5 linked regions of the Homo sapiens genome follow. The protein of the gene in region 5 purifies or fractionates together with the protein of the main gene of each other region. This does not show direct contact. Each region holds a gene or a part of one and is shown on either strand. Other genes may lie near its edges.

Evidence for each region.
Region 1: the proteins of DGKG (region 5) and NOP14 purify together in Homo sapiens (affinity purification with mass spectrometry; one large-scale study listed by BioGRID and IntAct). This does not show direct contact.
Region 2: the proteins of DGKG (region 5) and USP16 purify together in Homo sapiens (affinity purification with western blotting; one study listed by BioGRID). This does not show direct contact.
Region 3: the proteins of DGKG (region 5) and TNRC6A purify together in Homo sapiens (affinity purification with mass spectrometry, with the first as the bait; one large-scale study listed by BioGRID). This does not show direct contact.
Region 4: the proteins of DGKG (region 5) and TBL1X purify together in Homo sapiens (affinity purification with mass spectrometry; one large-scale study listed by BioGRID and IntAct). This does not show direct contact.

What each region holds. Positions count from the first base shown.
Region 1 is NC_000004.12:2,948,715-2,955,068, reverse strand, and holds part of NOP14 (nucleolar protein 14), read left to right. Parts: intron 1-505; coding exon 506-645; intron 646-1,423; coding exon 1,424-1,558; intron 1,559-2,671; coding exon 2,672-2,794; intron 2,795-3,823; coding exon 3,824-3,955; intron 3,956-3,990; exon of another isoform or gene 3,991-4,855; coding exon 4,856-5,135; intron 5,136-6,354. UniProt on the Homo sapiens protein: Involved in nucleolar processing of pre-18S ribosomal RNA. Has a role in the nuclear export of 40S pre-ribosomal subunit to the cytoplasm.
Region 2 is NC_000021.9:29,029,983-29,036,336, reverse strand, and holds part of USP16 (ubiquitin carboxyl-terminal hydrolase 16), read right to left. Parts: intron 5,743-6,354; coding exon 5,564-5,742; intron 1,501-5,563; coding exon 1,397-1,500; intron 67-1,396; coding exon 1-66. UniProt on the Homo sapiens protein: Specifically deubiquitinates 'Lys-120' of histone H2A (H2AK119Ub), a specific tag for epigenetic transcriptional repression, thereby acting as a coactivator.
Region 3 is NC_000016.10:24,791,290-24,797,643, reverse strand, and holds part of TNRC6A (trinucleotide repeat-containing gene 6A protein), read right to left. Parts: coding exon 5,827-6,354; intron 4,172-5,826; coding exon 3,995-4,171; intron 3,101-3,994; coding exon 2,925-3,100; intron 1,738-2,924; coding exon 1,705-1,737; intron 155-1,704; coding exon 74-154; intron 1-73.
Region 4 is NC_000023.11:9,471,514-9,477,867, reverse strand, and holds part of TBL1X (F-box-like/WD repeat-containing protein TBL1X), read right to left. Parts: intron 1-6,354. UniProt on the Homo sapiens protein: F-box-like protein involved in the recruitment of the ubiquitin/19S proteasome complex to nuclear receptor-regulated transcription units. Plays an essential role in transcription activation mediated by nuclear receptors.
Region 5 is NC_000003.12:186,354,656-186,361,009, forward strand, and holds part of DGKG (diacylglycerol kinase gamma), read right to left. Parts: intron 1-6,354. UniProt on the Homo sapiens protein: Diacylglycerol kinase that converts diacylglycerol/DAG into phosphatidic acid/phosphatidate/PA and regulates the respective levels of these two bioactive lipids.

The sequences.
Region 1 (6,354 bases), on a different chromosome or scaffold from region 5:
CGTGGCGTGCAGGTGACTAGAGGGGGCGCCGTGGCGTGGAGGTGACTAGAGGGGGCGCCGTGGCGTGCAGGTGACTAGAGGGGGCGCCGTGGTACAGGTGACTAGAGTCTCCAGGCCCTGCCCAGGGAGGTGGGAGGGACACAGATTGCACCACTGATCCTGGGCGACGCTCCCACCAAGACCCTGGAGTCAGCTTGCTCTGGGTTTGCCAGTCTTCGCTAGAACCAGCACAATCAAAAATAGGTGCTGGGTGTTTCCAGCCACTTGGGTTACGGCCAGTTGGGAGTGTAATGGGTCTGGGTTTTCTCAGAGTGGCTTACCTTGGGTATTTCTCAAGTGCCATTGTGCCTGTGGTCTCAGGCCAGGCTGTTGCGTGTGAGCATTTTTTTCTCAAATGTGGACTTTTCCAGACCACTATGGGGGAAGCACTGGCAGAGTGCTACAGGAAACACTTCCCACGCCAGGGCTGGGCTTCACTGTGGGGTTTTCTGCCTTTTGCCCCCAGCTGAGCTGACTGCTGCCCACTTTGGAGGAGGCGGTGGGCTCCTTCACAAGAAGACTCAACAGGAAGGCGAGGAGCGGGAGAAACCGAAGTCCCGGAAAGAGCTGATTGAAGAGCTCATTGCCAAGTCAAAACAAGAGAAGGTGGGTTAGTGAGTGTTCTTGATCATCTTCTCCACGGTAAGACAGGCTCACCAAAATGTGTTTGAGCTTTTTTTTCCTGTACCTTTTTAGGCTGTGTTTAATATTTTATATGAGTTCAGTAAAAGCATTTATTGTGAGTAGGAATTTTAAAAATCACATAAAGCATATACCTCGGACAGGTTTTGGTTCTTTTGCCTTTTTTTGGTTTATGTTTTGTTTTATTTTGAGACGTAGTCTCTGTTTCCCGGGCTGGAGTACAGTGGCACGATCAAAGCTCACTGTGGCCTCAAACTCCTGGGCTCAAGGATCCAGTGATCCTCCCACCTCAGCTCCCCAAGTAGCTAGTGGGCGCCACCATGCTCAGCTAATTACTTTTTGTAGAGATGGGGATCGTGCTGTGTCGACCAGGCTCAAGCAGTTCTCCCACCTTGGCCTAGTTCTAAAGCACAGGGTGGGCCACTGCACCTGGCGCGGATGGGTTTTTTGTTGTTGCTGGTTTTAGTATCTGACATGTGCCCAAAAAATCACTTTTTTATTCATTTGCAGTGAACTGCTCAGAGCATCTAAATTAATGGTTTATGGCAGGAAAAGATTTCCGTCTGATGAGATTTGGTAGCTTTGCATTTAAAATACTCATTTCTCCTGGCCTCTTTTCTGTGTTGAAACGTTTGGTGCCAACTGAGTGATCACTGTGTGTGTCCTTGGCACTGACATTGGGCCTCTGGGTTGAAGTCCAGTAGTAACGGTATGTGGTGTGTGTCTGTTATTTTTTCCCCAGAGGGAGAGACAAGCTCAACGAGAAGATGCCCTCGAGCTCACGGAGAAGCTAGACCAAGACTGGAAAGAAATTCAGACTCTCCTGTCCCACAAAACTCCCAAGTCAGAGAACAGAGACAAAAAGGAAAAACCCAAGGTGGGAGCCAAGTACTGAAACAAACTCTTCACTCACTGAGCTTGGGTGACCGACTTTCTCCAGAGAAAGGGCTGGGGCTGGACGGCTCTTCTACCTGTCTCCTTTAGGGCAAGTTTCTGTTGAACATTGATACTGAATTACCTGCTGTGTGTAATCTTGGGGTGGAAGTAGATTCAGTTACTTGAGTCTCTATTGCAGGTGAATTAAACTGAAAAAAGTGGTGTTTCTGGATGGAAGAAGTACTTCAGGGTGGACACGTTAGAATAGGTGTCTGAACTTCCCTGTGACATGTTTGTCTGTTGATACATAATACATACATTTAATATACATTTACTTATTTTTGCCTCTGTAAACAGTTGTTTCCTACTGCATTCTCTTTAGTCGAAACTATTGGAAAATGCTGCATTTGTTTAAGAAACTGCGTTCTCAGAGAAGTCTAGATCCCAGCAGATTAGTGTCATGTGGTCATCTGTGCATCTTTGTCAGTCAGCCTTGATGTTACCGTTACTTTACTTAGTTTCCCACGTTTAGGGCGTAATGCCTGGATAAGTAGCGTTTTTGTTGTTGTTTGAGACGGAGTCTCGCTCTGTCACCCAGGCTGGAGTGTAGTGCAACCTCCACCTCACTGCAACCTCCACCTCCTGGGTTCAAGTGATTCTCTTGCCTCAGCCTCCCGGGTAGCTGGGATTACAGGCGCGTGCCACCATGCTTGACTAATTTTTGTATTTTTAGTAAAGACAGGGTTTCACCATGTTGGGCCAGGCTGATCTCAAACTCCTGACCTCACGTGATCTGCCCACCTTGGCCTCCCAAAGTGCTGGGATTACAGGCGTGAGCCACTGCACCTGGCCTGTTTTCGTTAAAGCAGATGTATTCTGAGAATTTTTCTAGGGGTAAACAAATTCTTTGTGACCGAATGTCCACTGATTTCGCAATCCTCAGGGCTTATCAGAACAGTTTTCTCTCTAGAAGAAAAGACGTAGATGTGGCTTAGCTACTTCAATAACATTATCTAGCCATTACTAGAATGTGCCAGGAAGCTAGATCTTTTCTTTTTGTAAAATAAGAAATAAATATATTTTTAAAATGAAGAATTTCTTCTTTCTACCTTAGCCCGATGCATATGACATGATGGTTCGCGAGCTTGGCTTTGAAATGAAGGCGCAGCCCTCTAACAGGATGAAGACGGAGGCAGAATTGGCAAAGGAAGAGCAGGAGCACCTCAGGAAGCTGGAGGTAGGGTGGCAGCACCTCAGGAGCAGGGCTGTGCTGCTGTCCGTCCACAGCCCCTTCTGCTCCATTTTGCAGGATGGGCTGAAGAGAATACTCTGTTTGATCAGTGGAATATTTTAGTCTATTTAAAGTTTATATTTATTCATGAATACCTTTTTTTTTTTTTTTCTTTGAGACAGAGTTTCGCTCTGTCACCCAGCTAGAGTACAGTGGCACAATCTTGGCTCACTGCAAACTCCACCTCCTGGGTTCAAGTGATTCTCCTGCCTCAGCCTCCTGAGTAGCTAGGATTACAGGCGCCTGCCACCACGCCCGGCTAATTTTTGTATTTTTAGTAGAGATAGGATTTCGCCATGTTGGCCAGGCGGTCTTGAACTCCTGACCTCAGGTGATCCAGTCACCTCGGCCTCCCAAAGTGCTGGGATTACAGGTGTGAGCCACCGCGCCTGGCCCCAGCTAATTTTCAAAAATTGTTTGTATAGATGAGCATCTCCCTATGTTGCCTAGGCTGTTCTCAAACTCCTGGTCTCAGCTGATCCTCCCACCACGGCCTCCCACAGTGCTGGGGTTACAGGTGTGGGCTGCCATCACAGCTGGCTCAGCTGGCTGTTTTGACATAACCACATCACTAGCTTCTTCCCGTGTCCAGTGTGTGGTCAAATAGTGGAGGCCGTGGAGCTGCTTGCTCTTGGCGTCCTGGCTCCTATTCTCTCGGTGCAGGGGGTGATGAGTCCCAGTCGGGGCTGGCCAGCAGAATTGGGCTGTGAAGGCCTCAGAATAATAGGCTTGCCTGGTGACTGGAGAGTATTGGCCACAAAGTTTGAACAGTTGATTTTGTTAAATGAGGAATGTGCTGCTTAGCTAGTGTTTGCATGCCTGATTGAAAACTGCAGGCAGAAAGCAGGCTGGATGCACCAGCCTCAGAGCTGGGAGGACCGTAGGCCCAGCCCGCTGCCCAGGGCAGGACTGCACGGCCCCCTCACCATATGTTGGAAGAGTGTGCTCTAAGACATCTCATTCCTTCCTGCTCAGGCTGAGAGACTTCGAAGAATGCTTGGAAAGGATGAGGATGAAAATGTTAAGAAACCAAAACATATGTCAGCAGATGATCTGAATGATGGCTTCGTGCTAGATAAAGATGACAGGCGTTTGCTTTCCTACAAAGTAAGATGTTTGCCTTCATTTTCTCTTTCTCTCTCTTTTTTTAATTTAAAAACATTTTTTTGGTATTCATTTTAGGGATTTATTACAGTTGGGAATTTTAAATCTTTTTAACCAGTTTCTCTAAAGTTCTTTATCTGGGTGTTTATGGTATATCAGATATTAAAACTTTAGAGAGAAGACTTTAACAATAGTATGTGCACTCACTTGCTCACGCTCTCTTTCTCACTCTCTCTCTCTGTCTCAAAGGAACACAGATAAAACTGATTACTCGGTTAACATCAACTACTTTTGTTAATAACTGTATGATTCTATCTGCATGACCTCATCATACTATTGAGGGAGCTAACTCAAGGCTAGAGTTGTGAATTTTCTTTGAGTGATGTCATTGAGTTTCCATGACTGGTGTAGTTTTTAATTCACGAACTTTATAAATCGGTACCCTTTTCTCGTTTTAAGAGTGTATCAGTCAGGGTCCAGGGAAGAAAAATAGGCAGGACAGGTTTCAAGCAGAAGAGATCCACACAGGAAAATGGATACTGATAAAAACACTAGGTTACCTGGAGGAGCAGAAGGTGCTGTAGACACTCCTCCTGCTAAAGCCCGCAGCCACTGTACACCTTCCAAATCCCAGTCCCATGCTGCTCCCTGGCAAAAGCTGAACCGCGCCCAGCATCCTGCCGCAGGGTTCTCTAGCAGCCTGTAGCTCCTGCGGCTCGAATAGCCTAGAAGCGGGTGGTGGGCAGGAGGCCTAGTGCCAGTGGGCAAATGGAGCACACAGGTTTGTGTTCCTTGCAACCACGTAGAAAGCCCTGATGTGGGCAGCCTCTTGATGTGGCTGTGAGATGGTCCAGCGTTGTCTCCGCCTGTCCTCATGCCCTGTGGTTTCCACGCTCTTGGTAGGATGGAAAGATGAATGTCGAGGAAGATGTCCAGGAAGAGCAAAGCAAGGAAGCCAGTGACCCTGAGAGCAACGAGGAAGAAGGTGACAGTTCAGGCGGGGAGGACACAGAGGAGAGCGACAGCCCAGATAGCCACTTGGACCTGGAATCCAACGTGGAGAGTGAGGAAGAAAACGAGAAGCCAGCAAAAGAGCAGAGGCAGACTCCTGGGAAAGGGTTGATAAGCGGCAAGGAAAGAGCTGGAAAAGCTACCAGAGACGAGCTGCCCTACACGTTCGCAGGTGGGCAAGTGCGCGGGTTTCCTCAGGTTCTGGGATAACCTTTATGACCTGGCCATAGCTGTGTGTGTTCGTCTCCCTCCCAGGGGTTGCATTTGTGGAATGGGGACCAAGGATGCCCTTGGGAGTGCCTGGACACACCCCTGTGTCTGCTGATCCAGGTCTTAGAGTGAGTGGTCATCTTAGTTTGTGACTGTGGTTCTGTAGGCCGGCCCCCGATGGGCCAGATGCGCCTCTCTCTAGTGGTACCTTCACCTCCCTTTTAGTATATGGTCAGCCTCTTGTGGTGGACCAGAGGGGCAGGGCTGGGGAGGTGGGTGAGCATCTGCGAGAAGGCTTCCATGTTCCCACCTGGGCCTCCTGTTTGGCCACGTAACATTTTAGATGGAATATACAGTGTTGTTTTGTCTAGTATGTGGAGAAAAATTGTCCAGGCCAGGTGCGTGGCTGATGCCTATAATCCCAACACTTTGGGAGGCCAAGGTGGGTGGGTCACTTGAGCCTTGGAGTTTGAGACCAGCCTGGGCAACATTGCGAAACCTCGTCTCTACCAAAAATATAAAAAATAAGCCTGGTGCAATAGCTTGTGCCTGTGTTCCTAGCTGGTCAGGAGGCTGAGGTGGGAGGATCACTTGAGCCTGGGAGGCGGAGGTTGCAGTGAGCCGAGATTACACCACTGCACTCTAGCCTGGGTGACAGAGCAAGACCCTGTCTCAAAACAAAGAAAAGAAAAATGGTCAGGTTCTAGTAAGCAATGCCGAATTATTCTGTGCCTGCCAGACGCTTCCAGAGGAGAAGCTAGTGGTGAAGCTGGCCTCTGTGAAGTGCCCTCTGGTGGCAAGAGTCTCCTGAGCTGACACTGCTTGGCTCACAGTGGCTCCTTCCAGGTCCTTCTGAAGCAGTCTGGGCACTAAACCCAGCACCCTGCCACCAAGATGCTCTGAAACTGTGGGTGTTTTAGCAAATTCCTAATCAAGGAAAGGTGGGAGGGCATTTCCTTATTAGCCTGTTCCCAGGTGCGTGATCGCACCTGACAGCCCAGGTCAGGATGGCTGAGACCCCTCCAGGTGTACCAGGGCAAACGCTGGTGGGTTTGTTGTGATCGTGAAGTAGAATAGTTATATAAAATTACCTCTCTGTCAGCAGACATGTAAGTAATTCTCATTTTAAATGTGAAATGTGGGCCAGGTGCGGTGGCTCATGCCTGTAATCCCAGCACTTT
Region 2 (6,354 bases), on a different chromosome or scaffold from region 5:
TAATCAACCACTTGACCCAACTGGTTTGAACTACAATACTGGACCTCATTATCACATACGTAACACCTGTGACCCAAAAATCAGAGATGAAAAATGACAAAATGACAACTAAAAAGGGGGAGACAAATAATAATTCCTGGAATCAAAGTGTGTAACTGCCAACTTATTCTATTAAAGAAACCGAACGTAAAAATTCTGTTTTCCTGAAGAAGACTATGCATATTAACTCTGGTTTATTATTAATAAAATTAGCCAGAATTATGGCTGCATATAAGTAGTATGATGAAATACTCCAAACGTTTTACTTTACTGGTTATAACATTGAAGTCAAAAGATTGTTTACATATATTTTAAAATACAGAATAACACTAACAAAAATAACAACTTTTTTTTGTTTGTTTTGTTTTTTGGTTTTTTTTGAGACGGAGTCTCGCTCTGTTGCCCAGGCTGCGTGCAGTGGCAGGATCTCGGCTCACTGCAACCTCCAGCTCCCTGGTTCATGCCATTCTCCTACCTCAGCCTCCCGAGTAGCTGGGACTACAGGCACCCACCACCATGCCCAGCTACTTTTTTTTTGTATTTTTAGTAGAGATGGGGTTTCAACGTGTTAGCCAGACAAAAGTAACAACTTTTACAATTGAAAGATGCCATTCAAGCCAGGCACGGTGGCTCATGCCTGTAATCCCAGCACTTTGGGAGGCTGAGGCATGCGGATCACAAGGGGATCACGAGGTCAGGAGTTTGAGACCAGCCTGACCAACATGGTGAAACCCCGTCTCTACTAAAAATACAAAAATTAGCCGGGCGTGGTGGTGCATCCCTGTAATCTCAGCTACTCGGGAGGCTGAGGCAGGAGAATTGCTTGAACCTGGGAGGCGGAGGTTGTGGTGAGCCGAGATCACACCACTGCACTCCAGCCTGGGCGACAGAAAGATTCCGTCTCAAAAAAAAAAAAAAGATGTCATTCAGTGAAGACTACTGTGAAAATGATTTTTAAGACGTAAAAATCTGTTTTAATGATGTTACAATGCAGCATCTATAACATACCAGACTGACATTTATTTTCATGCAAATTCATAGCCAAAATTTTATTACAATTTTATCTGAAATTTGTTCTTAGCGTCCCTATCTCCACTATATGCCTTATAATATCACAAGCAAGAAAAACAAAGGGGTAAAGATTCTTAAGTCTTCTATGTTACAATGTTTGTGCTTGTGCAAACGTCCAAGTAAAAGCTTCTCATAATACTGCATTCTTTAGCTTTGTGAAAGTGATGGTATTTTAAAACATACTACAAAAATTTTAAATTGCTTTCTTCTTAAACATATTTAAACATTTCCATTCTCTAATATTTCAAATAATTTCCACCCAAGAGGCAGAGGAACTGAAACTCACCATACACTCCAGTTGTCCAAACTAAGAACCAGACAGTGAGGTTCAGATCTTGGCGTCAGATAGTGCTTCAAGGCATGCTGCTCCTGAGAATTTCTGCCACAGCCCTAAAAAAATCATAATCATAAACCTCAAAGCCATAAAAACTCAGCAAGAGGGGAGAATGCATAATCTATCATAAACAAGGAAGTGGCTCATGAAATTCTGCCATTCTTACAATCTTGAAAAGAAAATGTTAGACTCTAGAATCAATATTTTGTTAAAACTTACATATGCACAGGCAACTGAGAACATTTAAGTCAACAAGTATTTAGAAAACCATGCACTCGCTAGGCGCGGTGGCTCACACCTGTAATCCCAGCACTTTGGGAGGCTGAGGCCAGGGGTGGGATCACCTGAGGTCAGGAGTTCGAGACCAGCCTGACCAACATGGTGAAACCCCATCTCTACTAAAAATACAAAAATTAGCCGGGTGTGGTGGCGCACATCTGTAATCCCAGCTAATTAGGAGGCTGAGGCAGGAGAACTGCTTGAACTCAGGAGGCGGAGGTTGCAGTGAGCCAAGATCACGTCTGGGCCTGCACTCTAGCCTGGGCAACAAGAGCAAAAACTCCATCTCAAAATAAAAAAAAAAAAAAAAAGAAAACCATGCACTCAAAGTACTCTTCTTGTCCAACTTTCCAGCCCAGATTAAACCACACTAATGCAGTCAAGTCTGGTTTGGATTCCTTAACAGTCTCCTAAACATTCCCCTAACTTCAGCCTCCTTCTTCACATGCATATTCTTTCAGTTTAGTGTTCCTAAAACAAAGCTCTGTTCATACACCATTCAAAAATTATGAATTGCACTCTTAAACTCCTAATAAACAAACCTGACATCCTCTGACCCCGACATATCTCTCCAGTGTTAACTCCCACATTCTCTTATTCACATACCAACGACCAGCTAAAAACACACTGAGCGCTTTTCACAACTATGCAATTTTGTTCACATTATTCTATTTATCCAGAATCCTTTATGAACACTGCTACCTAACCAAATCCCACCCACTCTTCAAGATCTTGCTCAAAAGCCACCTCCTCCCAGAAGCCTATACTTATCTCCCAGATGAGAAAATACTGTCTCCTTCCTTTAAACAAATTCTATAAAACATGGCATGAATTCCTAGTGGCATTCCTTATTTTTTACCTTGTACTAACGTTATTGATATTTATATCCTTTCTCACCTGGTCTATAAATCCCAAAGGCTCAAGGCAGTAGACTTAATCTATTACCAAATATTCTAGAACACAGGAGGTGGTCAAAAAACACTATTTAAACAAGTAAATGGGAGACTTTTACCTAAAAGATGTATAGGCTTATTCATAAAAGAACATGACCTAAACTTCTGCTTTCAGCTAGTCAGATCACTGCTGAGAAACATATCTTCACTGTGTATCTACTGGAACCAGTCTATCAACTTTTGGATCACAGTACAACAACCGGTCGTGTTTCCATTGCCGCTAAATATATACTTTGGAGAAGAAATATACATTGGTAATTTCTAATTCCTTAACTATGATCCCAAACACTATTCGCTTAATTTATCCCACTGAACATTTAATTACAAAATAAATGAATTAACATTTGATACTATTTTTGAAAATTACAACATCATTTGAGATCATTTGAAACATAGTTGTCTTGAGACAACAGTTAAGAATCATTAGCTAACAGTGCCAAAGGTATCTAGTGGGAAAAAAGTTAGCAGTTAATACTGACATGTCTTATTCTTACAAATTAAAAAGGTAGCACAAAAATTTGTAACACAAAATATATTCTGAAAAACTGAAATAGCAAAGCATATTCATACTCACCATATGTATTTAAAAGGTTACAATTAAACCTTTCAAATACAAGTAAACAGTATCTTTTCTAACATACAGATTTTTTTAACTGACCACAATGAGATATCAGTATATAACTATCATGATGGCTAAAATAAAAAACTGTGACAATTGTAAATGCTGGCAAAAATGAAGAAAAAGTGAAAGTGAATCATTCATACACTGCTAGTAAGAATATAAAAGGTAGAGTCACTGTGAAAAAACAGTTTGGCAGTTTGGCAGTTTCTTAAAAAACTAAACATTAAATTGCCATAGGACCCAGCAATTGCACTCTTGGGCATTTATCCTAGAGAAATGAAATCTAAGTTCACACAAAAACCTGTACACAAATGTTAACAGCAGCTTTATTTGTAATCACCAAAAAATGGGATCAGCCCAGATGTTGTCATTCGACAGGTAAACAGTAAAAACAAGCTGTTGTACTATATGCCATAAAATACGCTCAGTAATAAAAAAAGAGCAAACTTGATACACACAGCTTTGATAAATCTTTGGGTGATTATGCTGAGTGAAAAAGCCAATCCTGGCTGGGCACGGTGGCTCACACCTATCATCTTAGCACTTTGGGAGGCCCAGGGGGGTAGATCACTTGAGCCCAGGAGTTCAAGACCAGCCTGGGCAGTATACCAAAACCGCATCTTTAGAAAAAATACAAAAATTAGCCAGGAGTGGTGGCATGCAGGTGTAGTCCCAGCTACTCAGGAGGCTGAGGTGGGAGGATCACTTGAGCCTGGGAGGTGAAGGCTGCCGTGAGCCGTGATTATACCGCTGAACTCCAGCCTGGGTGAGAGAGTGAGACCCTGCCTCAAAAAAAGAAAAAAGCAAAAGCCAATCCCCAAATGTTGCACACTGTATGACTCCATTTACATAACATTTTTGATGAAATGACTAAATTTAGAAATACAGAATAGAATGGTAGTTGCCAGGGGCTGCAGAGAGTGGTGGCAGTAGGGAGGTGGGTATGATTATACAAGGGCAACACAAGAGATCCCTGTGATGTTCAACTATTTAGTATCGTGACTGTGGTGGTGAATAATCTACACAGGTGACAAAAGTGTACAGAATGTAATACACATGTACACATACACACATGCACAAAAAAAGAAGTCAAACTCAGGAGATCTGATTGCGATTGGTGTGTTGTTTCAATCTCAATATCCTGGTTGTGATATTATACTCATTTTGTAAAATGTTACCACTGGGGGACTCTGAGAAAAATGCATAGGGATTTCTCTGTATTATCTGTTAGATCTGCACATGATCTATAATAACCTCAATAAGATTTTCAATTTGAAAACGTGAAAAAACAAAAAATCCTGGCTGGGCGCAGTGGCTCACGCCTGTATTCCTAGCACTTTGAGGGAGCCAAGGTGAGTGGATCACTTGAAATCAGGAGTTTGAGACCAGCCTGGCCAACATGGCAAAACCCTGTCTCTACTAAAAATACAAAACTCAGCCAGGCGTGGTGGCACACACCTGTAATTCCAGCTACTTGGAGACTGAGGCAGGAAAACTGCTTGAACCTGGGAGGTGGAGGCTGCCATGAGCCAAGATTGTGCCACTGCACTCCAGCCTGGGTGACAGAGTGAGACCCCATCTCAAAAAAACAACAAAAAACTGGCTATCTGCCTGATCTTGAAGCCTCATGACTTCATGACTACTGCCTAGTAGCCCAATTTCCTAACATATAAGCTTAACTTGCCACCACTAAGGGTAACTGAGAGACCCTGACTTTAGTACCACGGTAATAACTGTGAGCTGGTAGAGTAGATACTGTGATGTGCCAGCCAGACATGCCCTCACTGCCAAAGATCAAGGTACTACTCATTCCCCCAGGTGCTGAGAATGTGGCCGGCTGAGAGCTCACAGTCTAGTCCATCCATCCCCAGGAATCAGTCTCAACAAAAGGGAGCTGCCTTGCCCAAGGTTACTTCCTGCTCTAGGGGCAGGCCACATCCAATGACTGGTCTATGCACAGGTAGAAAGGTCTAGCTCCTTGCCTCAATTCAGGCAAGAGATCACTGTGGGATTGGCTGAGACCCTGTTGCCACTGCCTCTTCATTCAACTTCTCCCTATGCTTAATCTTGCTTCCCTTACTTTTACTGGTGTGGTACCAGAGAACACTCCACCACCTATACACACATCTCAGAACTGGTTCTCCAGAGAACATGATCTATGTTACTAGTATCCTTTTATCCATACTGTACTTTCAGGTAATACCTTCTAAAGTAAGTTCAAAGAGTTTTCTAAAATCCCATATTGATCTTAAAACGTAAGCATACCTGATGGCCACATTTAAGACACAGCCAAACTGAAGGCTTTTCTTCTGTTTCTTCTTCAGCTTTATCTTTCACTTTATTGTCAGTCTTACAGTCTTGGCAGATATTCCATTCCACATTCACTAAAGCCTTTTTCAAATTACCTTGTTCCAATCCTTTTCTAATGTGTCTGCACACAGGTTCTATTAAAACAAATAATAGACAAGGAATATATAAGGTCAAAAATGACTTTCTTCAGTTAATCTCAAAACTTACCCTCGATTCACATTTCAAAAATGAAATTTACTCTATAAACTGTTAAGATATTCTGAACTTAAAATTGTTTGATATTTGAATAATATGAGATAAATATGTGAGAAAGAGATTTGACACAAATTTGTGAAGTTTCGCTTTCTTGAAGTCCTAAATATAACCACCACTGTCCCCCACTACAAATTCATTTCAATTTATTTGGCTATTTCCTTTAAATTAAGGCCCTTTATCATACTTATGATTCTCTTTATCTTTAAAGATTTGTAGAAAACGTCCTTCATTTAGTCAATAATACACCTACTATAGGGCAGGCACTGTGCTAGACGCTCAGGAGCCCAAAATTGACCAAGTCACAGCTGTTTTCTTTGAGTAGCTCACATTCTGGAAGGAAAGGCAGCTAAATAAATTAATGTATAAGAATCTCCGAAACATGGTATAGCAGCACAAGCAGAGAAGGCTAAAGTCACCAAAAGTTTCACAGGGGAGGTAACATCTGTGCAATCCTAGAAGATAATAATAGTAATAAAAATTGCTGATATTAA
Region 3 (6,354 bases), on a different chromosome or scaffold from region 5:
AAAAAGAGTGAAATCAAGATAAATCATGGACCACCATTAAAAGAGGAAGGAGCTGCTAAGAAAACATACTTACCGAAAAACTGATGTTTGAAAACTGTTTAACAAATGGATTTATCCACGCTTCTTCTTGTTTGTTTCCACCTTTCATCATTCCCTTTGTAAAATAAAAGAGTAGAAAAGATGCCATGGCCATCTCTGTTTATCTGGGTATAGTGACGGATTAATAAAACTTAAGACAATCCCCAATTCTCATTTTTAGCCAATAATTTCTCCTCCAATCAACTCTTATCAGAGTTGTTAATAATTAAAAATCAACTTATTTGATTTTCAACTTCCTTTGCTCCAGTCCTCTGGTATAGCTGTAATGTACAGAGAAATCTCTAAAGGCAAGCAGTCAGAAGGAAAAGACGGAAGCAAAAGGCCTCGATGACCCACAAATATGAAAACAGGGCCTCTGAGTAACGGAGAACTGTAAGATTAGTTATAATTTAGATTTCTGGAATTCTCACTCCAAACCAAAGTAAAAAAATAGTGACTAGGTTCTAAGGTTAGTCCAAAGAAGCCAACTTAACCCCTAATTTAATTATGCTATATGCATCCTACTGAAAAAACACCATGTGTTTTCCACATGAAAAAGTATTTTAAAATTTCAATTTGTGTTGCCAAGAACACAACATCTCTAGCAGAAGTTGAACCTGGGATTCCTCCTGCTTAGGGCTGGCTCTCTGCGGCTGGTTGGGGTATGGGTGGTACGCAAACTCCATTGAGACATGAGTTAAGAGGATGGAGGGTCTGTGATCAGCAGTCTGGTAGACAAGGAGGCTGGAAGCCATAGAGATCTATGTCTCTCATTATGGTCTCACTGGACCATTCTCAGTCTGTTGCCTTCATTACTTCATTACCCCTTCCCATTGCTACTGTCCATTCCTTCTGACTGTGGAACAGAACACAGCTTCACAACTTCCCCCCAAATGCAGGTCTCTGAAGCAAGCATCTAACTCTCTCCGCAGATTCTGAAGTTGGCTTTGATCCCTTTTCCTTTCACCCCATCCATCCCCATACCTAACTAGTTGCCAAGTTCTTCTGTCCTTTCTATTCTGACTGAAATGCCTCTCAAATTAGTCCCTTCCACTATATATCCATTCTTATTTCCCAACTCAAGCTGTCCTTTCTAGCTTGAATTAACGCAGATGCTCCCTGAGATCCCTAACTGTGGTCTCCCCTCTGCACCAATTTATATTTCATACTATCACTGATTAGCTTTCTTTTAAAATTAGTAATTTAAAAACCCCACTGATGTTGTTTTCTACTCAATTTCGTTGGTTCCATATTTTACACAAAATAAAGTTCAAATTCCTTGGCATGCTACTGAAGACACTACAATCTGCCTCAACTACAGAGCCAGATCTCTTGTCACTTCTTCCTAAAAATTCTACATTTTGGTTATGTTGGGCTACTATCTTCCTTAACACATCCCATCCCAAGCATCTTCCAAATTCAAGCTGACACTTCTATGAAGCTCTCCTAATGCCCCATACTAGACTGTGAGCTCCCGAAAGGTGAAACTCATATCTTAGTGTATTTGAATCCCCAGCACCAAGCACAGTACCTGGCACACAGCAGAGGCTAAATAAATGTTTGCAGTTGCTTTCTAAAGATTTTTACTAGTAGAAACAAAGGAGAAAGAGTAAAAAGGCTACACACCCTTTCCCTTCTCCTTTTTTTGCCACTCAGACCCTGTAAGGAAAGACAAAGTCACAAAACAGCATGGTCCAGTGGGAAGAACATGGGGTTTGGAACTGGAAGACCTAAACTTAAGTCCTTACTCTGTCGCTTACTAGTTATCGCAACTTTGGGCAAGTCACCACCTTTTCCAGTCTCAAATTCATCAGTGTCCTATCTTAGATGGTTGTGAGGATCAAATGACTTATGTAAAACATGTAAAAGCACTTCATAAGCTATATGGCAAGGCAATAGGCAAATTCAGCCAAATGAAAAATTTTAAAAATGAAAATGGCAGGTCCTAGACTTAGAATCCCAGGATTAAAAGTGAGGAACCTTGGCAGTTACCTAGTCCAGCTATCCACTGGTATCTGACTTCTAAGGTCCCTCAAAAGGTAATCATTCTCAAGTAGGGTGGGTTAGGATGTTATGTTAGAACCACCTGGGGGACTGGGCACATATTTTGAAAATGGTCCCCAGGAGGATCTGACAGCAGCCCCCAGTGCCACCTCTTAAGAACCAGTGCTCTAAATCAGTGCTTCCCAAACCTGGCTCTGCATCAGAGACATTTGAGGAGTTTCTTTAGGATAAGAAACTTGGTCCAATTTCCAAAACTTCAGTAGACCTGAGGTACAGGAAGCTGCATTTTTAACAAATGCCATGGGATTTCGATGTACAGCCAGCTTTAGGAATATGATTTGTCCACACATAAAAGCAAAACCAAGCTCAGATCATTCCTAGGGATTTTTGTCACAGGACCTTTTGGGATGGGATAGGGACAAACATGACAGGTGAATAAGGAGGATGGTGACTCTGGGTAAGCGGGTGGCGGGGGACTCCAGGTGAGGAAATGAAATGGGAGATGAACTGGCAGTGGGATGGAAAGAGTCAACATGGAGATTTGCCCTCCTCTTCATCCTCACCACTGCAGGCACCACCCTAGGATGAGGGGTTGTCCCAGGCAGCACTGGTGGAGGGGGAGGAAGAGAGAAATCCCAAGCTGTAGCAGTGGGGAGAAAGGAAGTTCCTGTGGTCTTTCTTATGTTTCTCTAGGTGGCTGCCCATACAAGTGGCTATACCTAAGGTGGGGGCTGCCTGGACTGTACTGACCGCCAGAAATGGGCAGGCGAAAAGTTAATTTTCTGTGGGTAAACTACCTTTGGAATTTAAAGTTTCAAGGGCTTTGCCCTTGAAATGTTTACCTTCGATGACATTTTCTTTGTATATGGTGGCCAATTTAAAGATGAGTTAAGCTCTTGAGATGAATTACTATTCCACATTCCAATCTCCACATCCTCTTCCTCTTCCCAGCCAGTGGGGCGATTTCCAGGCAATGGCATATCATCACCACACCAGCCATCTTGCATAGATTTTGGCCCTGATTGTGGATTTGTGATATAAAGAGAAACATACTTTAATAAAAGAATTCCTTCTGGAGAATAAGTATATATTAAAAATTGGGTAGAGAACCTAAGAAAACACACACGTGCACACTTATTTCCCTTCCTGCATCTGCACAGAAGGAAAGTATGTTTTATACTGAGCTAAACCTTCCATGAAAAATAATATATTCTTATTTAAAAATTTAATAAAACTCCTCCATGCCTTTAACAAATCATAGTTCTTGAACATGGACAATGGTAGCACTCTTGTTTGTACCCACTTAATAATCTGCATAGTGATGCACAGGACAAAGAAGATGAATGAAATTTGAAAGAATTAATTTTTATATATATTTTTAGGGAGAATGGCCAGAGAGTATTCAAAGCCTTAAGCAGAAAGCATCTTATCTTCACACATGGCCCTTGGGATTCCTACCGGGCATCTTGTACACAGCCTATGGGATAATGACAATGTTAATTTCAATCTTGGGTCTTTTCTGAACTATGCTAATTGTAACTTTCAGGGAATCATCTGACAGTCTGAATATGTGTCCTCATGGCTACACTAGTTGGCCTCTCAGGCTGGATGGCATGAAAGTTGCTAGTAGACTCTTCCTAGATAACCTAATTTGGTAAAATATAATTTAGATTTGATGAAGTATATGCAAATGAATAGTTACAGTTCTAAGAAATATGAGAAAAGAGGAAAATTCAGAAAGAGAATAAACCACGTTACAAAATCAAAGAGCAAAATACTGAACATCATCTATCATGTTACATTATATGAATATATTATAAATAACATAGAAACCTTATCTAATTATTTAATTATAGTCAGTGAGTGTTCGCCACTGCTACATAACAGCTACCAGGCATTGTCAATAACTTACCAGATTTGCTTAATGCTTGTGGACCAACAGAGCTGGAGCCCCACGTGGATGTGCTGGATGCCGCAGCAATGGGTTCCCCCCAGCTGGGACCACTGTCTATGGGCTTACCCCATGCTGAAGTACCATTATCCACAGTTGTGGCTGGAGTAGAAGGCTCCCCCCAGGGCTCACCCCAGCCTTTAGAAAGTGTGGGAAAAGAAGTCATCAGCATAGAAGGTAAGGAGGTGCAGTGGAATAAGGGACAATAAAGAAAACTTAGGGACCAAGGATGAAGAACTTCATGTTTATGTACTGAATAATGATACTGTGATAGGCAAAAAGATGGCATCTGTTTTATGTTAAAAAAAGACAAACTATTTCCCATTAATATAAGGTGAGAATTTTTTTAACTTTTTTCATAATTACCCTCTAGACCTAGAGCTGATTTTTGCATAGTTATGGAAAACCACTCTCCTTTGAGCATCAGTTTAATTCCTGAAAAAGTCAAGTCATTCTAAACCAAACCTTGTAAATTGGAGCAGGTGATAAGCTGGGTGACAGTGTATGTATAACATCTGTACCAGCTGGGTACAGTGGCTGATGCCTGTAATCCCAGCACTTTGGGAGGCTGAGGCAGGTGGATCACCTGAGGTCAGGATTTTGAGACCAGCCTGGGCAACATGGCAAAACCTGGTCTCTACTAAAAATACAAAGATTAGCTGGGCGTGGTGGCACACACCTGTAGTCCCAGCTACTCAGGAGGCTGAGACAGGAGAATTGCTTGAACCTGGGAGGTGGAGGCTGCAGTGAACCGAGATCATGCCACTGCACTTCAGCCTGGGTGACGGAGAAAGCCTCCATCTCCAAAAAAAAAAAAAAAAAAAATTGTGCCACAAGTGTACCCCTTCCACACCACCTACACTGGAAAAACAATTTACTACCCAGCTAACAATAATGGGTCACCTACTTTTTACATATGCTGAACAATGCTTATTTTAAAATCTGAAGTATTAGGCTGAGGTTGTCCAAAGCAAAAAAAAAAAAAAAAAAAAAAAAAGCCATAAATGTTTCATTAAAAAAAATCAAAGCCAACAGGCTTCATCTTAGATACATACTTCTTCCTTTTAAGAATCAAACCTAAATTAATACAACAAACTATACTTAGACTAAAAAAAAAAAATTCAGTGCCAAAAAGTTAGCTCATGAAAGCACTCCCATATCCACTTCCAATGAGACTATTAAGTCAATAAAACTTTTATTAACAAAGACAATGTAGCCAATCACACTTAACAAAAATGTTGTTGGGAAAATTTGCAGAGATAGGAATTAGTTCATTATTAGAGAGGAAAGTAAGGATATACTAGAAAGGTATTGTCAAATGTTTTAAATACACAAACATATATACTGTATCTAAGTAGAGTTGGATTTCTCACCTACTTAAAAAAAAAAATCCCTTCTAAAGCCAAATATACAACCTAATGTTTAGAGAGTACTGTATTTATGAGATACTTGTTTTATTTCTGGAGATATTTTAGTCAAATAATAAAACCACAAGTTAAGGCCTAACTCAAAAACAACTTGGAGAAGTGTACAGCATTCCCACTTGACCGCCTTTGTCCAATTCGCCTTCTCTTGCATTTCTAATAGAGAATGAAGTGTGCAGGACTCAAACAACACTGCCAAAAGTGGAGTTCTGTTCTCTGGTGGTAAACATCACCCCTATAATTTTTTTCAAGCTGCTTCTGGATTACAGTAAGAACAGCCTTTGTGTGCATATCCAAGTACTTTGTTATACAAATCTTATAATAACAGTAAGTTAAAACAAGGCTTGATTTCATAAAATAGAAACTTACCAGAGCCACTGCTTGCCTCTTTGTTTGAGATGGCACTTGCAGGCGTTAGCAGCTGATGTACCTGTGCTTGCTGGTCTGAACGGCTGTTGCCATTTGGGACGTTTTTGTTCCACATGTTCACATTTTTGTAGTTGTATTTGCTTGGATCTCCCCAAGCTGAAGTTCCATCATCAATCTCCATTTTGCGACGTATAGATTCTGGGGATGGTTCCTCCCAGCCTGTGGGTTCTTCTTCTTTTGCTGGGGCTGGTATAGGTCCCCCCAGCCAGCCTGTACCAGGAGGTTTGCCTGTAGCTGGTGGGATTCCCCAAGATCCAACAATGTCTTGTTGCTTGTTCCAGTCTGGAGAGCTGACTGGCTTTGACGAATCTCCCCAACCTAGAGACTGATTAGACTTTGGAGGGTCTCCCCATCCCTGGGAAGGAGTAGGTTTAGAAGATTCATCCCATCCTGATGAATTATTTGGATTTATGTTGTTTCCCCAAGTGAAAGAACTAGTTTTACCAAGTTCGTTCCAACCGGAAACGG
Region 4 (6,354 bases), on a different chromosome or scaffold from region 5:
GGATATTCATGGTGGCCCGTGGCTGGAGGTGGGAGCAGAAATGGGTGAGAACCGAGTAGGAGCGATCTTATTGGGAATTGAAAATGTTCTAAAACTGCATCATGGTGATCTCTACACAACCCAGTAAATTTACCAAAAATCCCTGAATGGTACACCTCAAAGAGGTGACTTTTGTGGCATGTCATTTATACCTCAATAACAATGTTTAAGAAAACTGACTTAATTTTAAGTCAGACTCAAGAGTTCTAAGTTAAATGACATATCTCTTAAAGCTGACGTCTTGGCAAGCCAAGGGCAAACATTTATGGCAAAGCCAAATGGAACAAAGTAATAGAGCTTGCAAAGGGGATGAGTGCCCAACCTGAATACACAATGTATCTAAGTCAACTCCAAGAGATAGAGAAAGCCAAACACCAGTAACTGCCCAACTCAGTGGTGTGGACAGAAAGAATTTCCACTCCAATGAACATCTGGGCCACCAGAAACCCATACAGAAAAATATATTTGTTGTCCAAATATAGAACACTGAATGGAAAAGCAAACAAAACAGGAAATTAGAGAAGGTTGAACATTTACTCTTAGATAGCAAACTACGAATCCAGCCCAAACTTCTCTCACAGCAAACGCCATGCAGAAAAATGGGATTAATGATCCCTGGGCTTGGTCCTCTGTTGTGCCAGACACATATTAGAAAGGAAAGAAAATTCAAAAAGGACAACTTACTCTGTGTTTTTATTATGCTTAAAGATGAACTGGGAAATAATGAAAGCATACAATATCTTGTTTCAACTAACTTTTCTAAAACCATGTCCAGGATATTCAAAAAATTACAAAACGTAACTAGAAACTAACTACTGGGTGGATATGAGCAGTACTGACTGAGATAAAAATGCAATGTTTCCATGAGCTAATCTTATTCTATATTTAGTTTGAGTACACTAATATAATTAACTAAGGTTATATAATTTTGCTAACTTCAAATTTTCACTTATAAAGCTTCACATACAATTATCTGAACTAAAATTGATTTGATTTTTATTTTTGTAGAAAGATGAAAATGGTTAATTTTAATAATCCTGTCTTCCTAATAAGTTACTGTCTTCATTGATATAAATTATGTAGATGGTGCTTCAACAATGCTCTAAAGTTTGTTTTCATAATCTCTTTCAAGGTTAGTGTACTCACAGATTCCACGTCCCAGGGGCTTTTACCATTTGGCCTTCCCATTCCCCTACATACCTCTGTGCCTCAAACTCCCAGAAACTAAACCTAGACAGCTGCCCCTTGAAAGCACAGGAAGTGTGCGCTTAAGAAATAAAGTCAATTCTGGTACAGGCTTCAGAGGTCAGCCGACTTAGGGTCATTCTCTGAGATACACTTCTGAAAGATTATATAGGGTGATTTGGATGGCAAATAAGCAAATGATTAATTAAGAGTGTCATCACTCAACAACAAAGACAGGAGAGGATTCCAGTTCACAGCTGAAGCAATTCAGTGGTTCCAATATGAAGTCAAGACCAGTCTAAGGCTTAAAGCAAAATATATTGTGCCATCTCTTTCCTCTTAAAGGGGTTGGGCTGTGGAGTCAGATAAGGTATATTCCCAAATATACTCTGCATCTGCTTTATGGTTCATTACAACTAAATTTCTTACTGGGGCCTAAATGCATTGGTCTCTGGAGAGGGGAGATAGGTGCATCAATCTAGATAGTAAAAAATTCTACTTCCTGTTTCTCCTCTCTTCACAGTGAGTGCCTTCTGAGTATTACCATAAAGAGAAGCAACAGGTTTTTTAAAAAGTAGACACAAATATTTCAGCTTATCAAAGGACAAATGGAGGTCTACATAGATTCTGATGAGCATTAATCATGGTCGGCATTAGGCATCCTGCTGGTACACGGAAATCTACAAGTACTGCTCCTGGCAGGCTTTCTAATGCACTGCGCAAGTGTATGAGCATCATTTCATATAACAAAGTTATGTTGCGAATTCAATATTCACAAAGAAGAAAACAGATGCAAACACCAAAAATTACACACAAAAACTAAAGCTGACATATCAATTCTCTCAAGTTAAACAAACTAAAAACTGGTCTGGAAACCCAGAACCACTTGAGGTTGGCATTTCATCTCATGAAAACCAAACCTTCAGCCATTCTAAGCAAATGAGCTCAGCCAGAAGACCTTAAATTTAGAGATGATTCCTATTTCTCACCTCCACAGCCCACAATGTGGTCTGAGTTGTGAATATAATTTTTATGTTTATTCACTCTGTAACACCAGTAGTGTAGCAGCAACTCAGAAAAAAAAAAAAAACCTAATGAGGCCAGGCGTGGTGGTTCACGCCTGTAATTCCAGCACTTTGGGAGGCCGAGGCAGGCAGATCACTTGAGGTCAGGAGTTCGAAACCAGCCTGGCCAACATGGTGAAACCACATCTCTACTAAAAATAAAACAATTAGCCAGGCGTGGTGGTGGTGGGCACCTGTAATCCCAGCTACTCGGGATGCTGAGGCAGGAGAATTGCTTAAACTTGGGAGGCAGACGTTGCAGTGAGCTGAGCACTCCAGCCTGGGCGACAGAGCCAGACTCCATCTCAAAAAAACAAACAAACAAACAAAAAACACCAATGAGAAATGCAAAAAAACAAAACACTTAATAACCATGATAGATGAAATATGTCTCAAAAACAAAAACAGCAGGTCACAGTGGCTCACGCCGGTAATCCCACCACTTTGGGAGACCAAGGTGGGCGGATCACCTGAGGTCAGGAGTTCGAGACCAGCCTGGCCAACATGGCAAAACCCCGTCTCTACTAAAAATACAAAAATTAGCCGGGTGCAGTGGCAGGCGCCTGTAATCCCAGCAACTCGGGAGGCTGAGGCAGGAGAATTGCTTGAACCCAGGAGGCGGAGGTTGCAGTGAGCTGAGATCACGCCACTACACTCTAGCCTAGGCGACAGAGTGAGACTCTGCCTCAAAAAACAAACAAACAAATAACCAGATTTAAAGATTTAAAGCACCCTAGGACTTTTATCACAACTCAATTCCAGTACAATCTCACGTTGATGTCTTTGAAATTCTGAACCATTTCTGCAGCAAAACGCCTAATTCTCCAGAGCCCTGAGGGCATCCGTCAATGAAATCAGCTGATTTATAAACAGAATTCAGTGATTATGAAAACAATGCAGTCATAAAACGCTTAAAAAGCATAGCATTGTTCCAAGGTTTCCTTGTGGACCTGCAAACAGGTACTGTCATCTAGTTCCGAAACAAGCGCATTTTTTCAGCTTTAAAAACAACACGCAAAATACAATAGATCCAGTATGTGCATGGTTCCCTGTTATTGCATATTCTTTCTTCCCTAAGTCAAATCACTAATACCTGTACCTCTGGAACGATGTCCAGTCCTTAAGCTGGTGGATCTCAAAGTTACTTAACGCACATACATGTGCGTGCAAACGCACACATACCTTAGTAGCTGAAGTCAGAGGAAAGGGGAGTACAACTGTGTCCTACCTGCAGGCAGGGACGTTGGTATCACCCCCTCTTCCAGCCTTTGGGGACCTACATCATAAATGTTTCTTTCATCATATATCCTTTTCAGCAAAAAAGTTTTCAGAAGGTGCTCCTAACTCATGTAATTTATTAAATATATAAAATACTCAAGTAACATGCATTTCATGGACAAGAAATATATTTTTTACAAGTATTAGAGATTTTCTTAATGGACATTTTCATAATTTCTTCCTGCATCCCAATAAATCTTGCTGTGCACCTGCCAGAGGGCATGAAACTCACTAAGACCCTTTTGGGAATTAAAATCTGAAACAAGTCATTTCTGTCCCCTGTCCTTCCCCCAAATTTAGAGACTACTGGCTTAAAGGAATTACACTCAGAGTCCCATAAAATTTAACAGAGCATCCCGTGACATGTAATATCAACAAGTATCTCTCCTTGCTCTCATCTGGTCTACAATAATTTCTGTCATGTACTGGACAGGGAAGATTATTCATTCTTATTTTCACGAACTTATGAGCTGAGTGCATCTCAAAGGTTAGGCTTTTTGAAGTATCCTAAGACAGATCCCTGGAAATGGCTGAAGTTGACATAGAACCACTGTGTCTTGAAAATGCAAGCTGAATCTGGTATTTTCTTCATAATCAAATTGGGAATTAAACCAAACCCCCTTCAAAGGTGGGGGACAGAACTGTCCCAAATGAGAACCATTAGTTGGCTGCAACATTCCAGAGCTCAACGTTGAAAACACTGTTCCAATAAGAAAGCATCTTTTCTACCTTCATTTCTAAAGCTTCCCTTTCTCCTGAACCCACCGCCTATCATGCCCCATCTCAATCTCTCTGATCCCATCGGACAAGAACAAACCTAGACAAGAAAAGGAAACAGTACCCGACTTCCTCTGAACAGGTCCTCCAGACTCTCCTGCTACTGTCAGAAGTTGGCAATTGCTGTTTTCAAGTTTATAATTTTGAATTCTTGAGTTTTTATCAACATGGAGCTGGCATTACAGTTGTGTACGATTCAAATGCTTGATAAGATTCTGTTGAAAAAAGAACTGAAGGCAAGGACACAAGTTTATTCTGTTCCCCAAATGAACCAAATGGCAGGGACGTCAATTTCCTATTCAGGGATATCAATTCTCTACGCTTTCGGGAAATACAATCTGAAACTGTGAAGCCACCTGGACTTTTATAGCACCTGGGAATTACCTTTGCACATTGGCACTACCGATTTTTACATGGCAGACTTTGGCGACAGTTCTCCACTCAACTTCATTTCTCATCTTCACATAGATGACAAGGTAACAGTGACAACTAAAGGAGCACAAGCATCCAGGCTGACAATTACCCAATTACCCACAGTGCACCAGAAACTGAAATCACGACTCAGTCCTGCTGAATTTTCCTCCAGTTCTTAAAATTATTGTTTTTTTTTTTGAGACGGAGTCTTGCTCTGTCACCCAGGCTGGAGTGCAGTGGCGCAATCTTGGCTCACTGCAAGCTCCACCTCCATGGTTCACGCCATTCTCCTGTCTCAGCCTCCCAAGGAGCTGGGACTATAGGCGCCCACCACCATGCCTGGCTAATTTTTTGTATTTTTAGTAGAGACGGGGTTTCACCGTGTTAGCTAGAATGGTCTCGATCTCCTGACCTCGTGATCTGCCCCCCTCAGCCTCCCAAAGTGCTGGGGGGCATGAGCCACCACACCTGGCCTCTTAAAATTATTTTATATGGTCTTGCCATATTAAAGTATATGTTGGCCAGGAACAGTAGCTCACAACTGTAATCGCAGCACTTTGGGAGGCCGATGCAGGAAGATTGCTTGAGTCCAGGTGCTCAAGACCAGCCTAGGCAACACAGCAAGACCCAATCTCTAGAAAAAAATTGAAAATTAAAAAAAAAAAAAAAAAGAAAGAAAAAAAAAAAGCTGGACATGCTGACTTGTGCCTGTCGGCCCAGCTACTTGGGAGGCTGAGGCAGAAGGATCACTTGAGCCCAGAAAGCCAAGGCTGCAGTGAGCTATGATCAGGGCAACAGAGCAAGACCCCATCTCTAAAAATACATAAATAAAGTATTTGTTATTATTGATTTAAGGAATAAAATGGCACCATGTACAATAAGCTTCTTTTTGTCCAAATTCCCTTCTATCAGGAAATTCAGACAAGCAAAAATGCTCGCAGCACTGAACAATACTGCACATTCACATGGACTCTAAATCCTAACAACAGGCAGGTCCCTAATTGGAAAGAGTCAAGCCTAAAGGGGACACATGCCCTTCTCTTCTTGCTCCGACATGATGGTGCTGGGGATGCAGTTTCAACAGACCCGAAGGAAGGTTTCAGCGTCTTGGAGAGCTGGCCGGGAAGGTTACCGGGCAGGAGAGAGCCTCACCTCCTCCCTACTCCCATATTCTAGCCTGGGCAGGTGTTCCAGAAAGGAAAGAGCCCTGTGCAGGCTATCTGGGGTCATAATCGGTTCCAGGCTCAAGGGAAACAGGCAGAAAAAACTCTCATGTTTTCTTTAAAGCATTCCGGCTACATCCACCACGATAGGAAAAATGACAAGAATTCAAGGCAGACACCCAGGTCAAGAATAAACACTGTGAGTTTTGCCGTGAGCATTGTTTGTGCTTCTTTCACAGGGTCTCCTGGGGCTGGAGAACTGCCGCACTCCCCGGAATCACTCAGAGGCGCCCAGCAGCACAAAGCGCCTTCTGACTCGCTGTGGGTTTCTGAACTAAAATGCGCAACTAACTTATCAATGTTTACCAAAATATCGCTTATTTTAATCATGGGAAAACTGATACTCTAGGCACCGGACATAAACAACTGTCACT
Region 5 (6,354 bases):
TACACATCATGATTCCAGGAAAGAATCTTTAACTTTCACTGAAGCATCAATGACTTAAGAAGCGAATTCCAAGAGGAGAAATAGATATTTTTGCAGGAAATAAAGCCTTAAGCTTCTTCAGAAAAGGAAGTGAAAAGAGGAGTTATGCCCTGGAGAAGGCACTGGTCAGAGTGGTGAGACCCTGGCTCCTATTCTGGCTGGGTAACCCCAGGCAGGGCACTTATTATGTTGGGGGTTTCCTTATTTCTCAGGATGAAGGCTTAGAACCAGATGTTCTCTTGGCTCCTTCTCTGATCTCATTTTCTATGACGCCAGAAATTCTTAGATCTGCCCCAAATTAATATATATCTCTAATCCTAATTGAATAACATCCCAGGGTGCTGAGACAGTGTGCAATTGAGGTAATTAGACCATGCTCCTTAATTTGTTCAGAATCATAGAGTTAAGGAAGCCACTACTATCTCCATCATCACCCTGCCCCCAACCACCATTATCATTATCACCACCATCACCCCCACAACTATCACCACCACCATCAATACCACCACCAACACCACTATCGTCAACTCCCCACACAACTACCATCACCGCTACCACCAACACCAACACCACTACCACCAGCACGATCATCATCACCACCATTATTGTCACCCCCCACCACCACTACCATCACCACTATCACCACCACCAACAACACTACTCCTACCACCATGATCATCACCACCACCACCACTACCATCACCACTATCACCACCACCACCACCACCATGAACACTACTCCCACCACTATGATCATCACCACCATTATCATAACCCCCACAACCACTACCATCACCACTATCACCACCACCACCATCACCTCCACTGCCACTACCACCATCACCACTATCACCACCACCACCACCTTACCACCATTACCCCCACCACCATCACCCCACCACTACCACCACCACAATAATCACCCCTACTACTGCCACCACTATCACCAGCACCACCACCAGCATCACTGTCCTACCACTACCATCATTACCCCATTATCACCATCACCAGCACCAGCACCAGCACCAGCATCACTGTCCTACCACCAGCATCACCACCACCATTACCACCATCATCACCACCACTACCATCACCTTCATGAGAAATAAAGTTCTACTTTTTAAAATGGGAAAATTTATAAAAATGTCTTAATTTGAGGGACTGATGTTAATTCCAGGGAACATTCTGGAATGGGATGTGGAATGAGCTTTTAGGATTGAAGCTGTGATTTCAAGGAACCAGCATGGAATCACTGAAATTAGTTTATGTCAGACCAACAAAATTGCTTCTTTGACAAGATTATTGGACGGAAGATCAAGGAAATACCAGTGATGAAGAATATTTGGAGTTTATCAGAGACCTTTGATAAGATTCTTCTAATAATGTTGAAAAAGATGAAGAAATATGGGCTCAGTTATAGTACAGAAAGCTGAATAAATTTTCTAAGTAAGTGCTGTTTAATTATTGAATTAATATCTATGTTTAGGGAACATACAGTGGAATGCCTCAGAATCCCATAGTGTTCATTATTTTTATTGATGACTTAGATGAAGAGGTCGTGCTCATCAGATTCAGAGATGGCAGGAAGCTGGCTGAGAGGGCCGGTAAATACACTGGATGCTAGAATCACAGCCAGAAATATCTGGGCAAGTTGGCGAGGCAGACTGAACTGAACAAGATAAAATGAGAAACAATGCACAGTCTCTAGAGTGGCTGTGAGGGGGTGTGGGCAAGTATCGGGTGAAGGCGAGCAGGTGGGCAATGCAGTTCAAGAGCAAGTTTAAAAGAGAATTGGGTTACTTCAGTTGATATTAAGCTCAACAGGTGTCAATGGTATAGATTCTTAATTAGACCTTAAAGAGTTTTAATAGAAATAGGAAATAGAATGAGGAGGTGGTAATTTCAGTCTTCTCCATGCTGATTAGGACTCCCTTGAAATTTTGCACTTTATTCTTTAAGAATAAAGAAATTAGAGAAAACTAGGACAAGAGTGATGATAATAATAGTGAGGGCACTGGAGCAAATGGCCCATGAGGTAGGGTGGAGCAGTGAAAAGGGCGTTGGCCAGGGATTTGAGAGCCAAGTTACCCCATTAATAGGTTGCGAGATCTTAAGAGCTGGTTCAGGACTCCCTGAGGAGAAGCACAGACTATGGTGGTTGACTGGTCTGCTCTTGTAGGTTTTTGGTTCCCCGCCCTTTTCCCCCTTCTCTTCCAGGGGAGGAGATGGGGCCAGCATCCACCAACTCCCATCAGTAGGAGAGGGGAGAGTTGCTGGCTTCTGGGTTCTTTCCTCGCAGAGGCTCATGCATGCACAGCCTGGGCCTCTGGGAGTGTCCAGGTTGGAGGGATCCTCGCCATCTGTTGATGGTGTTGTGTGGGGAGTTGGAGCAGTTGGGGGAGCTGGAACAGATGATCTTAGTAGTTACTCCCATCTCTGAGAGTCTAGATTTCAAGACACGCTGAAATCAGGTCAGGCCACACTATGGATGGGTTCCTTTCTCCCTCCTTCACCCATCCAGGGACAGGTTCTCTTAAGACCCTGAGCAAAATTTTGCACTCTTGATATGTGATTCAGAGTCATAAATTATACCCATTGTTTCTCTTGGAAAGCTTTCAAAAGTCCCCTTTCTGTGATTTCCCAGGAAGCCAAGATGGTGGCAATCCTAATCCACATCACAACACACAGCAGTTATTGAGGCAGTAAAGCAAAAGGTCCAAGAAAAAAAGAGAAGATAAATAAAGAGAAAAGGCTTTGAAATCATATAGACCTGAGTTTCAATCTCAGTCTCTCCTATCAGCTTTGTGACCATAGGCAAATTACTGAAACTTTCTGAGACTCAGTTTCCTTATCTGTGAGATGGGGTTAATACCAGGAGTGTAGTGATGTGAATATCAGGTGAAGCTATGCGTGCACAGAACATAGCCCAATGTGGGACTCAGAGTCGGTGCCCAGTAAGTGCTATTGCTAATATTACCACAACATTTACTACCACCATCCCTCCTTTATCTTTCTCTCCCTCATCTCTTCGGGGCTAGGCACTGTGCTAGTGCAGAGGATACAGTGGAAAACGAGACAGACATAGACACACACTTTGCTTGCACCAAGCTTACACTGTAGCACAGTCCAGTTAAACTTTTTGCAATGATGGAAATCTTTTAAATGTGCATTCTCCAATATGATAGCCAGAAATCACATGCTGCATGTAAGCACTAGCAATGTGACTGGTGTGACCGAGGAACTGAATTTTAAATTTCATTTAATTTTAATGAACTAAAGTTAAACAGGAAATAGTCACATGTGAAAACAGACAGCACAGCTCTAGACACCTTTCAGGTATATTTCTGGGACTGACTAGCCTGAGCAGAATAAAGGTATGCTGAAAGAGAAATGCACGTAAAGCATCCAGTACAGGACCTGGAAAATTCTCTTATTCGTTCATTCGTCACATTTAATTGTTGACTATGGATTGGCACTATCTCAGGTGCTGGGGATACAGAAAAGGATTAGACATGGTCTCTGCCTTCAGGGGGCTCATAGTTCAGTGGGAGATATGCAAATAGTGACTTCGCCATAGCGAGGTAAGCTTACGCACAGGTGCTGTGGATTCAGGACATCTCTAGGGTGGGCTTCCCTGAAGGATGTTTCCGGACCTGAGCTGAATCTTGCATAAATTGATCTCAGAGTGGGAGCAACAACAGATTATATTCCAGGGCTACTAAACCCACTGCTGGTGGCAGAGGTGGCTTGGAGATCAACGAGGCTCTAGGAACAACTCATAGCTAGGGCCAGTTTGTTTTCTTCTAACCCTTTGTGTGTGTGTGTGTGTGTTTTGTATTGCCTAATTCAATCTCTCTTCTGCCAGCCACATTTTGTTTCCACCTGAGGACATTTTTTTTAAATGATGGGTATAACTTTATTTTTAAATTGTTTTATTACTATTAATAGTTACTAGCCTTGATTTCTTTTTTTTTTTTAGTCAGACAAACTCTGTTACTTATAAAGTGACATCAGCTCTCACTATGGTTGGGTGTGGAATTCTGATACTTGGTACAAATAAACAACTCTTTGAATATGGCCAGTATGTGAGGAAGCTGTTGCTGATGGGTTAAGCTTGCTGAACCTGGCTGTGATCATGATGCACGTTCACAAGAGTGAATGTTGTTATAATGACTTGTATGGAGAAGTGGGACATTATACACATTTGTATATTTTACATGATGGTTTGATTTGTTCAAAGTTAGTATGTGACATTTAGCTAGAGAATTCTGCAGCTGATACTTGCTCACATAAAAATAGGTATAGCTTTATGTTGTATGGTTTCCATAATCCCTCCCGAGTGTATAAAGCAAGGTGATATGTGTGATTCCTTCTTCCATGAGACTGAAGAATGCTCGTGTGATGTGGCTTGGTCGTGTGAGGCCTTGGCCTATTTGGATTCCTAAAGGTCATCTGCTTGAACTATGGCCGAGTTGTTTCTGGTGAATGGAATCCTAAATTAGTGTACCCTTTTTGAAAAGTGGCTTCTCATATATACTGTGAGCCTTAAAACATTCATGCCCTTTGGCCTGGTGATCTATTTCTAGGCATCTATCCAAAGGAAGTAATGGGAAGTGTGTGCAGTAAAGACTTTGCCCAGAGTTATTTGTAGTTGCTAAAGACAGGAAGCAACTTAAATAACTAACAGTGTAATAATATGCAGCCAGGAAAACAATGTTCATGAAGGTCTTTTGCTACAACACTAATTCAGAAAAAAGCAGAGAACCAATAGCTACAGGGGCTCAGCAACCATACTTTTGAGTCAGACAGCCTGGGTTTGAATCTTGATTCTGCCACATACTAGCTATGTAACTTGGGCAAGTCACCTGAAGTCTTAGAACCCTAGAAAAATGCAACCCTAGAAAAATGGGATTGATAGTAATAACACCTCAGAGGGACTCCTGAGGATTAAAGGATATAATGAATATAAAATTTAACACCATGCAAAGTATACTTATTAGGCACCCAATAAATGCTGGCTCTCTATGGATTGTATAATTTCGAGGCATAAAAACAGATGGAAAGGAAATATGCCAGTATATTAACAGTGTGGGATGGGAGTGGTAGGATCATGGGTGATTGATTTGTTCTTTGCATACTTTTCAACTTCCCAATTTTTAGGCAATGAACATGAATTACTTTTATACTAAAAGAGTACATTATAATGATGTAATACAATAAGATATACATTTTAAAAGTTTTAAAGTTTTACCACAAAGAAAAGGTACTTCCCCGCCCTTTTCCCCCTTCTCTTCCAGGGGAGGAGATGGGGCCAGCATCCACCAACTCCCATCAGTAGGAGAGGGGAGAGTTGCTGGCTTCTGGGTTCTTTCCTCGCAGAGGCTCACACATGCACAGCCTGGGCCTCTGGGAGTGTCCGGGTTGGAGGGATCCTCACCATCTGTTGATGGTGTTGTGTGGGGAGTTGGAGCAGTTGGGGGAGCTGGAACAGATGATCTTAGTAGTTACTCCCATCTCTGAGAGTCTAGATTTCAAGACACGCTGATGTTTGTCGTTTTCTCCCCATGTCTCGGTTGATCTGAACCAACCACTCCATAAAATTCTAAGGTAGGAAAGACTCATCTACTAGCTTCCCACCCTAAAGCCCCTCCCAGAAAAATACCTGTAGTAATGCCTATAGTGCTGGGTGTAAACGTTAAGGGTGATTGGCAAAAAAGACATAGATCAGGAGTACGACCGGGAAGTTGGCTTAGTTGCAGCCGTTTTATTTAAGGAGTATAATTCATATTCGGAATGGAATCTCCAGCAAATGTAGTCTTTTAATATGACAAACAGTTAAGTACCTTCCCATGTTAGACACATGCCTGGAATGAGAGTGAGAGGGACATAAAATATAAAGGGGTGTGTGTCTGTGCCTGGGTTCATGACCAAACCTCGACATTTGCCCTCTATGATCTAATTTCCTTCATTGACAACCAGGGTGCCCTGTGTGCCAGCAAGTGGCTCTGCCAGCTGTATTTTACAGACAGAGAATCCCAAGCACCAAAATAACAAAGTTGATTCCCCCATCCAGACCAGAGGGGTCGTTTCCAGTCCTGTGTCCTGACCACTGTCTCTCATCATGACCCCTGGTGTTCACCTCCAGATCCAAAGTGTCGTCGCCAAGCCCCCAAAATAAAGGAATGACAAACAGCCCTCCCAGGCCCTCCTCCCCACAGAGAGGTCATCGTATGCTAATGAAGTCCGAGGAGGCAGCGGCGCAGCGCGGGAGAGCGCGCCCACGGGTTCACAGCGCTCCCGGGCACCACTGCGGCG